2 separate regions of the Homo sapiens genome follow, and region 2 is linked to region 1. Evidence: fine-mapped expression QTL. A gene starts in region 1. The other region holds a variant in brackets. All regions are shown on one strand. Distances are from middle to middle.

Region 1 (4,385 bases):
CTTGGGAATGGCAAGATCAAAACTTCTCACTTTCAAATTTATGAAAAATATTGTTTTCAGAATGAGTGACTTTGGGATCAGAAAGCCACCATTCTAATTGATGGTTCCACGACTACACGGGCTCACACTCGCAAGAGCAAAAGTAAATCATCACAAAGGTGCTTCTTGATAATTCTAGAGAATGGAGAATTACTGTAACATCTTTCTGATTTTAGGAGAGGTAGCAGTTCCCTTTTTAGCCTAAACGCTATTTCTTTTTAAAGCTCAGCCAAGAGACTCCATTATAATTTTCAAATGTGTGTAACTTAAATTCTCATATGAAATACCACTATGCTTAAATTAGTCAAAACATTTTCCCCATCTACAACTCTATCTTGTCATTGTAATCATTTTCACAAAAGTGACTGCAGCTCTCAGACCCTAAAAAGAGAAAATCCAGGGTAGTTTATCTGATCTAGTTAGTTTCGAAGACAGGATCTAGAGATTATTTAATATGAAATGGGTCACCTGAAATGAAGTGTTTACTGAAAACAGCTTGGATCAGCCCAGTTTTCTACCACTGAACCATGCATTTGGTTTAAAAAACACAACAACTCTGGGGAATATCGGCTGCTTCCAACTGTGTTGAAGGTGTTAAAGAAAAGAGCATAAAATTAAAAATGATCATCTGAGGCCTTTATAGTCTCTGCTCAAGAGACTAGAGTTTTCCATTCTTAACTAAACACCCAAATATCTTAATAATTGGGCAAAATCTAAATATCAGAGATAATTTTATCTTGAAGATTGTTAAATTATAATGGTGATTCACTAGCTTGCCACGTCTCTGAGTCAAAAATTAGGTCTTTGTTTAGGAATCAATCATAATCTGCAATTTGGAAATAGGAAGATTTTAGAAGACTCAGACATTGACTTTCTTCTGTGCAAAAAAAAAAGACGTATTGAGATAAGACAAGTCTTTCCTTGCAAGGATACCTCTAATGCTCATACACCACCTCCCCTAACATTAATAGAGCTTCCAGGTCACTAACCAGTGTCAGAGAGCAGCCCATGCAACTAGAAATTCAAAAGATGTCGAACATAGGGTCAAGCTTAGAATAAGACGTCTTAGCTAATTAAGTATGCTTTTTTCCCGAAATTCATATTAACAAAATCTTGGATATGTCAGAGAATGCATTCTAAGTTCACTCAACCTAGGAGGGAGAAACATAATTTTAAATTAAGAGCTGAAGCATTCTTGTCCTAACACAAAGCAAGGAAAACGAAATATCACACCACAGGAGGGATTTCACAAATTTGCGTCAACATCAAAACCTTAAAATAGGCAAGGAGAATGCAGATTCACAATGAACTCTTGTACTTGTTTTGTTCAGAGGAGAGATGGTTCTGAGAGAATGACAGTGAACTAACCCCAGCTGGTTTAGTTGGTGCTTTCAACTACTGCTTCTGATCAACTCCTTTAGCTAGAATAAATTGATGAGGATTTTGGCATGTGGTATTAGAGATGGTTATTAATTTTTTCCTCTTATTTGCATTGTTCAATATAGTAAATACTAGCTGTATATGGCTACTTCAATTCAAATTAATTACAATGAAATATACTTAAATATTGAATTTCTTAGTCACTCTTGGTTCATTATTGAATATCTTCAGCTAAGATTTCCCAACTAAAGACACTAAGAGGTGGCTTAGTTAACTGGTCATCCACAAATATTGAAGCTGCTGTTAACTCCTGATATATTCTCTGCAAGGAGAATACTCATAAGCCTCCTCCTGAAATCAGCAGCCTAGAGATAGTTTTATAAACTGGATACAAGTTGGAAATCTATATACTCTTTAAGTGTTTGAAATATTAGCTTCCCAGGGAAGAAAATCAAATTCATAAGATATGCTAGGACAATTTAACTCAAGATGTTCAAAACTGAAATGACATATTCTACAACATGTGATAAAACCACCCCCTAACAACTTAAAGCAAAACAGGGATGGACCTTAAAGACCTGCCTTTTCCTCATCCCCCAGCCAATCAGTTTTCAAATCTTGCATTTTATTTTGAAAGGTCCCTATCCCCCTGGTCTCTTGTTTCTAGACTTGGCACATATTTAAGTTTGTTACCTCTCTCTACTGACTTTTCTCTCTTCAAACAGTATCTATGCCTGCCAAATGTGAACGTACAAGAAACAAATCAGAATGTGTCATTCTGATTTAAACTGCTTATTAGTTAATACCCTCAAGATAACATCTGGGTTCTTAGCTTCAATGAGTCAAGCCTACTTACATCTTTTTGTCTTTGGCTGCTCATTTCCTATCACATCGCACTCCAGCAATGCCAAGCTGTGCCGGCCTTCCACTCCATCTCCATTATTTCGCCCTCCACCGCCGCCGCCACGGCTTTTTGCCCCCCCGCCGCCGCGGCTTATTCCCCCCACCCCGCCTCGGCTTTTTGCCCGCCGCTGCTTTGTGCCCCCCCGGCGCCAGGGCTTTTAGCCCGCCGCGGCTTTTTGACCCCTTGCCGCTGCGAATTTTGCCGCCGCGGCTTTTTGTCCCCCGCCGCTTTTTGCACCCCGCCGCTTTTTGCACCCCGCCGCTTTTTGCCCCCCCCGCCGCCGCGGCTTTTTCCTCGCCGTGGCTTTTTCCCCCCTGCCCCCACGGCTTTTTACCCGCCGCGGCTTTTTGTCCCCTGCCGCCGCGACTTTTTGCCCCCCGCCGCCGCGACTTTTTGCCCCCACCCCGCCTCGGCTTCTTGCCCGCCGCGGCTTTTTACCCCCCGCCGCCGCGGCTTTTTGCCCGCCGCGGATTTGTGCCCCCCTCGCCGCCGCGGCTTTTTGCCCGCCGCGGCTTTCTGCCACACACCCGCCGCCGCGGCTTTTTGCCCCTCCGCCGCCGCGGCTTTTTGCCCCCACCTTGCCTCGGCTTTTTGACCGCCGCGGCTTTTTGCCCCACCACCGACACAGCTTTTTGCACACTCGTCGCCTTGGCTTTTTGCCGCCGCGGCTTTCTGCCCCCTCGCTGCCGCGGCTTTTTGCCCCTCCGCCACCGCCGCTGCTTTTTGCCCCACCGCCGCCGTGGCTTTTTGCCCGCCGCAGCTTTTTGCCATCGCGGCTTTTTACTCGCCACGGCCTTTTACCCGCCACGGCTTTTTGCGCCCCGCTGTCACGGCTTTTTGCCCCCCTGCCGCAGCGACTTTTTCGCCGCCGCGGCGTTTTGCCCCCGCCGCCACGGCTTTTTGCCGCTGTCGCCGCCGCTTTTTGCCCCCGCCGCCGCGGCTTTTTGCTGCCGCGACTTTTTGCCCCGGTCGCCGCCGCTTTTTGTCACCGCGACTTTTTGCCCCCGCCACCGAGGATTTTTGTCCCCGCCGCCACGGCTCTGAGGGCAGGAGCGGCAGACTCGGCTGCCAGCTCTACTGGCGTCCTGGCAAGGGCAGCGCCGAGGGGTGCTCCTGGTCCAGCTCTCCTGGCTCAGGGATTCTTTGCCTAGGCGCCGGCGCCCCGGGCTCCTTGCCTAGGCCCCTGTGGCCTGCATAGAGTGGCGCTGCCTGTGGAGGCGGTGGGAGAGAAGAAGGAGGGCGGTGGTGGGGGTGATGCGGCGGCCACGGAGGGTGGCACAGGGGCTGCGGCCAGCCGGGCGCTGCAGCAGTGCGGGCAGCTCCAGAAGCTCATCGTCATCTTCATTGGCAGCCTGTGCGGGCTGTGCACCAAGTGCGCTGTGTCTAACGACCTCACCCAGCAGGAGATACAGACCCTGGAGGTAAGGGGTTCGGGGACCCGGGCTGGGCTCCAGGAGCGGCCCGGACACCTCCTTCGGGGGCCCCAGTTCACTCCTGGCCGAGTTGCATCTTTGAGCCCACGTCACCCCCTTGGAGGCTTCCCCTCCCTCCTGCACTCGCTGATGCGGCAGCCAGAGGACCCAGGACCAGCCCTCACCTTGGGCAGGATTTGTGGAGCGGGTGCGTGGTGGGAACTGGGATGGAGGCTCCAGGGTCCCGTGGGGGTGGGGGTGGGCTGCGTGAGGACATCCCCTTACCCCCTGAATTTCCATCTGGTCCAGCCCTCTCATCTTGTAGGTGAGGAAACCGAAGGCCCGAGGGAGAAATGACTTGCCAGGAACCCCTGTTAAGGAAAATTAACAAAGTGTGGTTATTAAAGAAGAACTGAGTTGGGAGTCAGACCTGGAGGCCCGCACCCGCGGTTAAGACATTATACCACCTTGAGTCTGGCCTGTTGACTGAGGGTGAGCCACTCCATCCTCATGTGATTGTGGGGTCTTAACCTCAAGGGGTTTCCTGCAGGAAGAAGCAAATGGGTTTGCTTTCCTAGCTCTGTCCAGTACGTTAGGGACCCTGAGGACTGAAGAGATTCTTGGAGAGCCATCTGGTGTATGTCATGGGT
Region 2 (4,385 bases), 910 kb before region 1:
ATGACATACTTTTTGATTCAAGGTTCTTAAATGTAGTTTTAGTTTTGATTCAATGTTATAGAACACTGTTTTTTTAAACTGTGATCTGAAGCCCACATGTAATGGAATCACCTGGGGTGCTTATATTAAAAAAATGCAGATTCTAGGGCTCACACCAACTAAATCTCCTGGGATTGGAGACCAGGAGGTAGCTCCTATAATCTCCACAGCTGCTTCTCAGGCACACCAAGTTTAAGAACCATTCTTTCATATTTTCAGACTGGGGATTCTTACAAAATGACAAAGAAGGAAAACCTTAATCTTTTAAAGTTAGAGTTCAAGCATTAGACTATATGCTTCTTAAACACAGTTTGTCTTTCCCATTTTCTCTTTCCAGTTCTTTATACTGTCAAGGGATTGGTGCAGAAATGGGAAACAAAGCAGTGAAAGAAAAACTATTTATTTCTTTATACACATCTTGCTTAAACAATCACCAAAAAGACTTTCATTTTCTGTCACCCACCCTGTCCACCAGTTATGTTGGCCTTCAATATGTGGCGTTAGCAACATATATAAATCTATATCATATATTTATACACACAAACACATTCTACCAGCACTGTGAAGACACAGACTAGGCTTTACTAGGCTTGGGGCCTCTCCCATGCCACTTAAAAATGAGCACAGGTTTGCTCTATGCAAGAATTTCAACAGAGTTGGTCTGGCCATCAGTCTGCAATTTCCCCGAGATAAGATAGGGTGACAAAATGGGACAGCAACTTTGAAGTGAGGTCAGTCCAATTTGGATATCATAGAAGAAAAGAAATAGGATGTGCTAGGTTAAGCCTGAGATGGTATCTGGGAAATCACCACATTCATGATGTGAACTCAAAGAACACAGGTGCTACAGTGCAGACCAAAGCCCAGCCTGACTCGACCCAACAGGGTCAGGTGTGGATCTGTGAGTAGTGCTCACTGAGCCCCCGCCAGCAGTGTCCGGCAGGGCACCGCTGCTCCGTAGTGTGCTTTTAGAACCTGCCAGAGGAGCTCCAGCATTGGGACCACGTGCCCCTTTCATCGGAATCAGGGTCCTATATCCACTGAGTTTTCCATCTCAGGACAGCTGATGAGGCAAGAAATGTGCTCTTGCTAGTTCCCAAGCTGCTGGGGCTGTTGAGAGGCAGTATCACAAAACCTTCTGTGCAAACTACGCATCTTTTGCTTAGTGCTGGGCCAAGTGGACCTTGGCTAACGGTATTCCATAGCTGTCACAAAGGCTTTCTGCCTTTCTCCCAGCTCCACCAGGATACATCTCTGACTCCCTCTTCTGGACCCTCCAGTGGACTTGGAGGAATGAGGCCCAGATGCTCCTCAGCAGATAGGTAGCTGCACAAAATGGGGACAGGCTCACCTTTCCTGCTGTTTTAAGGACTTCTGGTGGCTGCGCTTCTTGCATGGTTCCTGGAAGGCAAGGGTCACAAGGCTGGAGTACACGGCAGAGCCCTTAGGGATTTCACCTGCAGACAAACATAAAACAAACCAAATCAGTGTATATTGCCAGGTCCTACTGATGGCTACCTGAAGCTGGAGTGAGAGCTACGTGGTGACCAAAGCCAGGAGCACGGTGAGAGCCAGTTAAGAGGATGAGCTAAGAGCATGCGCTGCAGTCTGGAGGAGCAACAGGTGCCCGAGGTTAGGGGGAGCCTCCCCACCTCCCTGTGTGCTGAGATCCCTGCTCCAATTCACTGCACACTGGGTGGCTGGATCCTACCACTCCCCCTTCAGGGGCCAGGTGACTCTCCAAATCACTTTGTCTCAGCAGAAAGAGGCCTTTGCCATCTCCACCCAAGAAAGAAGTGCTTAGCATGAAACATGCACATATAGAAACAGCCTGTTTGTAGGAAGAAGAGGACATTTTGCTGGGAAGTCCTCTGTTAAGTTTATGTCCAGTTGCCATAATGAGGGTGTGGAGGGGCCAAGTCCACAGGGACCTCAGAGCTCAACTAAGTTCAGTTCCATCTTTGACAGATGAGGGTGCAGCAGTCTCACAGAGACTAAGGGACAAGCCAAAGCCACACAG[C/T]AGTTAGTGATAAGCCAGGGATTAGAACCGAGGCCTCGGGTCCTTTCCAGTGATCTATGGGAGGTGGAGGGGAAAGCTTCCACACTGGAGAAAGCCAGTGGATACTAGAGATTTTTGGGTTACCTTTTAGTGGATACTAGAGACTTTTTGGGTTACCTTTTCTGGGACAGGAATAAGGCTTTACAGAGGCAATCCTGTAAGTGCTGCTCTAAAGAGGCTCAGGAAAGAGAAGAATTATCAGAGAAAAACAAAAGGGAATTAGTGAAAAAATAAAAAAAAGAGCAAGTTAAACTGGCCCAAGTCATTTTCACACTATGGAGATCAACATTCTCTCAGGTTATGGATTAGAAACATTTCTAGGAATATGCTGAATTGCTTATGGCAAAGCTTTGATGTCCATGTTAAAAGGTTTAGTTTCTGATTTTTAACCATTTCATATACCTCAAGTTTTTCTTCAAAGCACTTCCTAGGGAATGATTAACACTTAGTGTTTTAAGTAAATGTAGATAATGTCTGGTACATATATAACATTTTTTCCCTGAAGGTTCAGTTGTTATTTATTAACAAATTTGCTTTTAGACCAATGAGACCCAACAGATCTCTTTTGTCATGTTACTTAAAGATACAGCAAAATCAAATCGCTGTTCTTAACCCGGGAATGTGCAGTGAAATCAGTTTATTAGGTTGCAAATTGCTTTTACTTTTTCATGAAGAGTAGAACACATAACTGGCCTCAAGATCCCTCTACTAGAAGCTCATTCAGAGGCAGACTCCCGAATGTCTAATGACTTCAAGAGTCAGCTGAATTGCATTTCTCCAGTCTCTGAACTTGGCCTCAAAGAAGAAAAATTGGAGTAAAAAGGAGAGATGATGACAATGTGAGAGTGAACCAAGATACAGGGGCAGGAGCTGACGGGGTGGGAGGGTGATAGGGACAGAAACTAGCAGGATGCTCACTGAGGACCTGTGATCTTGCAAGTGGACCCCAAATCTTCTCCTGGAAGGCCAAAGCAGGCCAAGAGTCACCTACAAGATCTGCTAACGGATGGTGATGGGTGGGGGACAGGCTTGGTGCCTCTGACTGGTGCAGTAGTTTCCTTACCTCTAAGTTAGTCCTTGCCTTCTTTAAAACATCATGTGTTCTGGTTACTGAAACAACAAAAGAGCACCACAGAGTAGAAACCACCAGCAGAAATTAACCCTACTTGCTTAGCGTGAGAATTCTAAAGCATTTATTTCTTTCTGGCTATTCAGCTTGGAGTCTCCTTCTATCCACCCCCTGTCCTCCCCTCCCTCTGCAGCCACAATTGCTCCTGGCACAGGAGGTTTGGGGACATCAAATCAGTCTCCACTCCCAACATCCCCAAGCCCCCCTGATCACTTCTCATCTGAAGCACAAGTGGGGCATCGGGAAGACTGCCTGTTTCTGCCCCCGTTCCCTCTCAGGGAACCTACGCTGGCTGACAATGAACTGTTCCATGCTCTCCTTCTGCTGGTTGGCATTCTTCAGATGCTCAGTTGTGCTCTGAAGGAGCTGCTCCTGTTTGGATACTTTGGTTCTCAGTTCCAGAAGTTCCCTTTCTGTTGATTCTCCCTGGATAAGAGGAACAGACTCTTACTGACCAGGCAGAAGGCCTAAAGCACCCTGTGCTTTGTGGCTCTTTCCAATTCAAAGAAGGATTCTACAGTCTTCTCAACTCTCTTGAACTGGATTTCCTCCTTCACAGCCTTGGATATCTCCAGCTGAGGACAGTTCAGGATGAGGCCATTAGGTAGGAATATTGAGACTCTGGAATTCCCCATGCAGACTAGCACAGGCCCACACACCTGTAGCTTAAGAGAAACTTGCTTCAGGCTGGTTTAAAACTCCCAACTCTGAAGAGGACCTTGCTTTAGTCCTGATATCAGTTCTGTCACTCTCCCTTCACAGGTAAGATTGAGAGTTCAGAAGTGTTATGCTGGGGAGAGAGATCTGGACTCAGGGAAGTCTGCAAGTTTGTAAATATTTGTGCCAACATGAAGATGGCACAACACCCTCTCCCTGGAATTAGCATAGTTGGATCCAAAAGGTATTGGTGCCATTGACCTGGAAGTAGAATCCCTGGGGAGGGGATCCTGAAACCTGCCTACACGAGGGTCTGCCAATCAGAGTTAGCCTGAGCTCTGAGCAGATCCTGAGGGGAGGCTGACTTTCCCCAGGCCTGGTCCAGCGATGCCAGCTTAAGTGATATGCTGGGATTCCAGGCAGTCGCTAAAAAGGCTCAGTCTCATGGGGGCATTCTGTGATCATTTAACCATGGGACCTGAGGGGTAGGAGATGGGTGCT

Evidence for each region. PIP is the estimated chance that this variant, and not a neighbour inherited with it, causes the effect.
Region 2: its variant is the best candidate, but not a certain one, in a credible set for the expression of LINC02798 in adrenal gland (GTEx, PIP 0.88).

What each region holds. Positions count from the first base shown.
Region 1 is chr1:121,393,561-121,397,945 of GRCh38, forward strand. LINC02798 (long intergenic non-protein coding RNA 2798) reads left to right here and starts at 2,012. Exons shown (of 2, transcript XM_047438024.1): 1 at 2,012-3,744. The coding sequence starts at 2,324. The coding sequence ends at 3,367. SRGAP2-AS1 (SRGAP2 antisense RNA 1) reads right to left here and starts at 4,345. Exons shown (of 4, transcript NR_104189.1): 1 at 4,203-4,345; 2 at 3,921-4,106. RefSeq lists a silencer at 2,089-2,383.
Region 2 is chr1:120,488,421-120,492,805 of GRCh38, forward strand. It overlaps the pseudogene PDE4DIPP2. Among named protein-coding and RNA genes, the nearest start is that of NBPF8, 76 kb to the left of the region's middle. The variant C/T (reference allele first, on the strand shown) is at 2,060.